Linked DNA regions of Homo sapiens. The protein of the gene in region 1 purifies or fractionates together with the protein of each later gene. This does not show direct contact. Each region holds a gene or a part of one and is shown on either strand. Other genes may lie near its edges.

Region 1 (3,748 bases):
GGAGTGCAATGGTGAGATCTCGGCTCACTGCAACCTCCGCCTCCCAGGTTCAAGCGATTCTCGTGCCTCAGGCTCCCGAGTAGCTGGGATTACAGGTGCGCACCACCACACCTGGCTAATTTTTGTATTTTTAGTAGAGATGTTGCAGGAAACTGAGGACTGGCAAGACTGAGACAGAGAACGAGAGGACTGTTTATTTCAGGTACGCACTGGCTTAGTGGACTGTCATCTAAAAAGCTGAGCATCGAACAAAGACAGAGCGGGGTTTTTATAAGCAGACTTCCAATAAATAAAAGTAGTTAATCATATGACAGGTCACATCATCTATAGCATAACTTGTGGCCTTGCATAGCTGGTGACTTTGTAGCTGCATTGAAAGAAAAACAAGAACTGGCTAAATACAGACATTTGTAAAACATAATCATGCTTAAGAAACCTGGGAAAGGAGTAACAGTCAAAGAATTTGTCTTTCTTTTTTTTCTTCAACTTTGCTCTGGAGGCGAGGGGTGTCTGGAGCTTATTCTTTTGGCCTTGGCCTCTTAAACAGCGTTATCTTATAACTGTCCTTGAAGTGAGCTTGCTGGGCAGAGGAAAACTTGTTCTTTTCTTTTTAACTTTTGCCTTGCTTGTTACTTGTCTTGGAGTGAATGAATGCATATTTATTTTTAAATTTCTGCCTCAGTTTCTTCTTTTTGAGGCCTTTTATAAAGGAAGTTTAATATGGCTCATGCTTGTAATCCCAGCACTTTAGGAGGCTGAGGTGGGTGGATCACCTGTGGTCAGGAGTTCGAGACCAGCCTGGCCAACATGACTAAACCCCGTCTCTACTACAAAATACAAAATGAGCCGGGCATGGTGATGCATGCCTGTAATCCCAGCTACTTGGGAGGCTGAGGCAGGAGAACCGCTTGAACCCAGGAGGCAGAGGTTGCAGTGAGCCGAGATTGCGCCATTACACTCCAGCCTGGGCAACAAGAGCGAAACTATCTCAAAAACAAACAAACAAACAAAACAAACCAACAAAAAAACCCAGCAACTTTCTTTCTTTTTTTTTTTTTTTTTTTGAGATGGAGTTTACTCTGCCACCCAGGTTGGAGTGCAATGGCGCGATCTTGGCTCGCTGCAACGTCCACCTTCCAGGTTCAAGTGATTCTCCTGCCTCAGCCTTCTGAGTAGCTGGGACTACAGGCGTGCACCACCACTCCTGGCTAGTTTTGTATGTTTAGTGGAGATGGGGTTTCACCATGTTGGCCAGGCTGGTCTCGAACTCCTGACCTCGAGTGATCTGCCTGCCTCGGTCTCCCACAGTGCTGGGATTACAGGGATTACAGCGCCGGCTGAAAATTACCAACTTTCTTCCCATGTGTTTCTCCAGGTCATATTTTCTCCAACAACATCAGCCTCTCAGGGGCAGGAACTCCCGGTTCCCCAGCACATGTCGGGGTGGGGGTGGGGTTTGCTGTTGGAAGTGCCTGTCACCGGAGGCAGCTAGAGCAGGGCTGCAGACAGTTCTGCTGAGGTCCCCCAGCCTCTGTGATGTCACACTGGGCCTTCTTTCCTTTCACCCTGGGCTGCGGCTCTGAGGCTGCCGTGGCCATGGAGCTCTGGAAGCTGGGCTGGGGGAGGAAGCCTGGTGGCTCTGACCTCCCCTGGAGGCGAAGGAGGCCCAGCCATGACACTCTTAACGGATGCCACGCCGCTGGTGAAGGAGCCCCATCCCCTGCCTCTGGTCCCACGTCCCTGGTTCCTCCCTAGCCTCTTTGCTGCCTTCAATGTGGTGCTGCTGGTCTTTTTCAGTGGCCTCTTCTTCGCATTCCCGTGAGTTTTCCAGGCAAGCCGTTAGGTTTCCCACAAAGAGACAGCCAGGGAAACAGAAGATGATAGGATGGAGGCAGGGGAGTGCAGAAGACCGGGGGAGAGGTCAGGGAAAAGGGGATATTCTGTTCGAGGGAACCGACGTGCAAAGGTGCAGAGGTCAAGGGTGCGGGCAGGGAAAAGGGGATATTCTGTTCCAGGAACCGACGTGCAAAGGCGCAGAGGTCAAGGGTGCCTGTGCATTTTGGGAGCTTTGGGTGGCTGGTCATGCTGGTGACATTTGGTGGAGCCATTATGAGTCTGCCTGGGTATTTGGAGCCTGGATTTTTAGATCTGGCTTGAAGGTCTGTGGGTCCTGACCTGAGCAAGCCACAGGCCTTGGGCCGGGGGCTTTGGGCTGCCCCTGCTCAGGACCGAGCCTGCCTCTGGTCTCAGTTGCAGGTGGCTGGCTCAGAACGGGGAGTGGGCCTTTCCTGTTATCACAGGCTCCCTCTTTGTCCTTACCTTCTTCAGTCTTGTTTCACTCAACTTCTCAGACCCTGGCATCTTACATCAAGGTGAGGCATCAGCCCCCTGGGAAAAGGAGGTGTCACTCAAGGGCTGGGAACCTGCAGGGGGGATTCCTAAAGTGCTCTTCCTACTGACCCTCCTCCAGCCTCTGGACCCCTTCACCCCACGTCTTCATTGCTCTGGCCCTCGCTCACTCTTTCTTCTCTTCTCTTTTCTTTCTTTCTTTCTCTTTCTTTCTTTCCTTCCTTCCTCTCTCTCTCCCTCTTTCTTTCCTTCCTTCCTCTCTCTTTCCTTCCTTCCTTCTTTCTTTCTTTCTCTTTTCTTTCTTTCTTTCTTTCCTTCTTTCCTTTCTTCCTCTCTCTTTCCTTCCTTCCTTCTTTCTTTCTTTCTTTCTCTTTTCTTTCTTTCTTTTTCTTTCTTTCTTTCCTTCTTTCCTTTCTTCTTTCTTTCTCTCTTTCCTTTTCTTTTTGTTGAGACAGAGTCTCGCTTTGCTGCCCAGGCGGGAGTGCAGTGGCGCAATCTCCGCTCACTGCAAGCTCCACCTCCCAGGTTCAAGCGATTCGTCTGCCTCAGCCTCCCAAGTAGCTGGGGCTACAGGAGCATGCTACCACGCCCAGCTAATTTTTTGTATTTTTAGTAGAGATGGGGTTTCACCATATTGGCCAGGCTGGTCTCGAACTCCTGACCTCATGATCAGCCCACCTCGGCCTCCCAAAGTGCTGGGATTACAGGCGTGAGCCCCCGCGCCCGGCCCTACCCCGTTTCTTAAGCCACCAAGGTGTGGAAAAACAGAATTGTTGAGGTTTCCCAGTTGCCTTAGATGGGAGGACCGGGCAGGCCAGGGCCAGAAGCCAGTGGGCTCTTCCAAACCACTGTATGCACTTCCTCCCTTCACTACACAATGACACTCAAAGCAGCACTCACTGTTCCAAACGCCTGAGTTTCATACAAAACTCTCCTGGCTGGAAACCCGTCTTCCCTTTGACTGCCATCCTCTCTGAGCTTGGACAGCTTGCTCAGTGGGGACAGGGGTTCCCCTGCCCACCTTGTCCCCACCCTTCCTTGTGCCCTGTGATGCCGTGGAGCTGCCCCCGCCGCGGGGTGACCGCAGGGCCTTCTGCTGTGCCCAATCCTCTTCCCACGCCAGGCTCCGCTGAGCAGGGCCCCTTGACGGTGCACGTGGTGTGGGTGAACCACGGGGCCTTCCGCCTGCAATGGTGTCCAAAGTGCTGCTTCCACCGCCCGCCCCGGACTTACCACTGCCCCTGGTGCAACATCTGTGTGGAGGTGAGTGCCCCTCTACCTGTCCACCAGCCATCGCCCCACATCTGGCTGGGACCAGGAGCCTCCCTCATACAGGGGCCAGGGCTGGGTGTGAAGCTGTTTTCAGGACTGCTAAAGGCCAAGGGTGGCAGTAACTCCC
Region 2 (3,648 bases), on another chromosome or scaffold:
CATCCTAGCCTCAGCAGTGAAAAAACAACTGCTAGTTTAAGGACCAGAAAACGTGCCCTCATGCATGATATAATATCATATATATAAAACCCAATAAAGCAGGTCCCTTTGCTCATTTAAAGAGTGATAATGGGGTAGTGACCTCAAATTAGGATTCTGCTGTGGGTCTTGGGGTCGAGAATCCCTATAACCCTTAGATTTCCAACCTGTGTCATGAGGATAACAACATCTATCTCTTGGGTTGTTGTGCTGATGGATGAAGTCTTACAAGAAAAGAACCTAGCAAAGCATTTGGCACGTAGCAGGTGCCCAACATTATGTTCTTTTTCTTCCTTCCTTAAGCAAATCCTTTAAATCCAGCCCCAGCCACCCTGGGCTGGGGAGGTCTCCCGAGATTTGAATCCCCAGGTTTGGAAGAAAGTCTCTGGTTTTGAGAGGAAGGGGTCTGTAATGATTCTGAAAGCTCGAGGTCCTTTCAAATGCTACTAGAGAAATTGTGCTTCAAGTTTTAGCTTTGGGCAAAGAAGAGCTCCTGTTCCTGAAAGCAGGGGTATCCTCTCCTGCCAATCATCCCATCTAGGACTGGACTGTGTGCATCCCGCTGATGTTGCCATCTGCCCGACCTGCCTGTGCATGCCTGATGCTCTCATCCCTGGCTTGAGACCATGCAGAGGGTAATGGGTGCACACACATGTCCCCTCTCTACACAAACATGCACAGCCACCCAAACATGTCACAAAATGAGAAGTCTGGGACAGAGGTCAGGGTGGTCTTCACCTTGGAGAAGCTGGCATCTGACTCTCTGCAACCCAGGCCAAGTCCAGAGGAGGGCTGCATCCCCCAGCTCAGCTTGTGGGAAGACCACTCCTGTCTCACGCAAATATGAGGCAGCTTGCTTATCTAGAGGTGAGGACAGGAACAAGAAGCAAGGACAGCTGCTGCTGGTGTGGGTTCTTAAAAGCAGGCAGCATTTTGTCCTCCCACCTGTGACTGCACCCACCCTGTGCCAGCACAAGTAGAAAATGGTAGATCTCCCAGGACTTTGCAGCCAGCCCATCCCAACTGTTTCTGAGACTTCCTGGCCTCCTGAAAGCTGCTCCCACCTGGGAGCATCTCCCATGGCAGCTTGCAGTGCCCACGCAGGTGATGACATCCCAGCTAGTGTCCCCTGATTGCTTCCATGTTGGAGCTGACTGGTATTTGGCCAAGGCCCCACTCCAGGCATTAATCATTGACCTGGTAAGAAAGGTCTGGGGCAATTAACCGGACTCAAGAGAGCCTCAACGTTGCCATCTGACACCCATATTTGTTCCCACTCCCTCCCTTTATTCTTCCAAAGAACTGCAGAAACAAAATACCTTTATATTCACAAGGAAATAAAAGGTTCCTTGCTGGGAAATTCCCCTGCAACAAAGAAATAACCAAGATAAACAACTCTATTGCCTTTGGCTCAAGCTGGTGAAGGGAGTCTGGGAGCAGGAGCAGGGGCCAGGGTGGTGAGGGAGGTCTGGGAGATAACGCCCAGCTTCCTCCTGCTTACAGCGTCCTTATCTTTATGGGCACTCATTACTGCCCAAACTTACGATCATTTAACACTCTCTTTGTCAAGACAACTCCAAAGTTTAAAGTCTGTCAAAGTCTGGGAAAGTGGAGACTTCTGTCTCCTCCTCTAGGCTGTAGTTGGGGTCTTGATGACAGCTGCTGTCAGGCAGACCCCTGGGACCCTCAACTCTCCTCAGCCCTGGGCTGTGTCCACGGTGGAGACAAAGTCCACACAGGCTGCTCCGTCTGAGTGGTCTCATCTTCGATTCTTCATCTTTGTCTGCCAGGCCTTACCAGGCAGGATTACAAAGACCCTAACACCTAAGCTTTTAACCCCAATTCCATAACCAAGTTGCTGGGAAAACGTAAGCCTATCATTCAGCATCTCAAGACCTCAATGTTTTATCCATAAAATGGTTGTGATTATACCCGTCTGTCTTATTTCAAGGGAACATATAAAGCTCAAATGAAATAATGTAAATGGTAGTGCTTTCATAAGCAACAGGGTCTCTACAAATAACACAAATAAGCATAAGGTAAAAGCATGCTCTTGTATTTGGGGTGCGATACAGTAGTGGAGAGGTTAAGCACATGGACTTTGCAGTCAGACAAAGGTGGGCCCAAATCTTCCCCGACCCCCATTCTGTGTACCCCCACACATTTAACCCCATGTGCCCTTGAGGAAAGTACTTAACCTTGAAGCCTTCATTTCCTCCCATGTGAATGTGGATAAGGATACTAACCTCACAGGGCTGATATCAAGTCTGTATGAGATAGTACACATAAATTATTCAACACAGTGCCTGAGACAGAATAAGGGAGCAATCAATGGGGTTAGGACCATCATCATTACATTTACAGCCTTAATAATCATGACACCTCCTCTGTGGGTCTCAGTTTCCTCATCTGAACACACTGTGAAATATGTCAGCCCGCTTCACCTCCCAGGAATGTAGGGAGGGCAGCTGAAACAGAGAGATGGGGGCCACGTATTGGTAGGAACCAATCACCCAGCAAGCCATTCCTGAGATCTTACGGTGTGCCTGGGACTGTGTCTCATGGGCAGGGAAACAGAGCAAATGACACAATATCTCTATCCCAAAGGAGCTTGCAGCTTAGTTGAGAAGACAAAAGCTACTTCTAGCTATTAAGGATATACAAGTGTTGAAGGATGATAAGACTTTGAATTGTTATGGAAAAAGTGGAGGCACTGATTCATTCAACAGGATTTATGTCAGTTGCTGGAGATACAAAGCCAAATAGATGTCACAGAAACTCTAAGGTCAACTAGTCTTGGAAGACAAGGGGCGCTTCATCTCCTTGTGATTATTGTTTTTCAGCATTGCACAGGAGAAGTCGGCCTGAGTGGTGCGGCGCTCGGGACCCACCAGCAATGCTGCTCTTCGTGCTCACCTGCCTGCTGGCGGTCTTCCCAGGTGTGTCTGCCAGGCCCCAACTCTCCAAGCTCCACCCCTTCAGCCTGCCCGACTCCAGGGTTCACCTCCCTGGGGACACTAAAATCAGACTCATCCCCAGGGATGTCCCTCTCAAAGTTGGCACTTCCTTGAGGAAGAGTCATACAGAGAAGACACTGAAAGGCCACATCTGTGAGCATTGGAAGTCAGGGACAGGAATGGCACTTCCTAATCTCAAGGCCAGGGGTCTGTGAAAGATCTTCTTTGAGAATAACAAAGACCTTAACTTCAACCAAGCATCTCTATGACCCGCTGTGAAATCTGAGGGAAGTCACTTATCCTTTCTGGCTCTCAATATTTTTATCTGGGGGAAAAAAAAGAAAAGAAAATCATCTACAAAGTGCTTTTAGAAATATAAGGAAATAACACATGGCAAGTGCAAACATGTAACACCTTACGAAAGTGGTGTTATTGTTTGAAAAAACAATGGATGGCTGGATGCTGGCTCACAGCTGTAATGCCAGCACTTTGGGAGGCCAAGGAGGGTGGATTGCTTGAGGTCAGTAGCTCAAGACCAGCCTGGCCAACATGGAGAAACCTTGTCTCTACTAAATAGAAACCAAAATTAGCTAGCATGCACCTGTAGTCCCAACTACTTGGGAGGCTGAGGCATGAGAATCGCTTGAACCTG

The links. Proteins that work in one complex are often made in the same cells at the same time.
Region 2: the proteins of ZDHHC19 (region 1) and PIGR purify together in Homo sapiens (affinity purification with mass spectrometry; one large-scale study listed by BioGRID and IntAct). This does not show direct contact.

The regions. Positions count from the first base shown.
Region 1 is NC_000003.12:196,209,240-196,212,987, reverse strand, and holds the start of ZDHHC19 (palmitoyltransferase ZDHHC19), read left to right. Parts: upstream 1-1,587; 5' UTR 1,588-1,672; coding exon 1,673-1,818; intron 1,819-2,250; coding exon 2,251-2,372; intron 2,373-3,472; coding exon 3,473-3,612; intron 3,613-3,748. UniProt on the Homo sapiens protein: Palmitoyltransferase that mediates palmitoylation oproteins, such as RRAS and SQSTM1. Catalyzes palmitoylation of RRAS, leading to increased cell viability.
Region 2 is NC_000001.11:206,939,819-206,943,466, reverse strand, and holds part of PIGR (polymeric immunoglobulin receptor precursor), read left to right. Parts: intron 1-2,882; 5' UTR 2,883-2,935; coding exon 2,936-2,978; intron 2,979-3,648.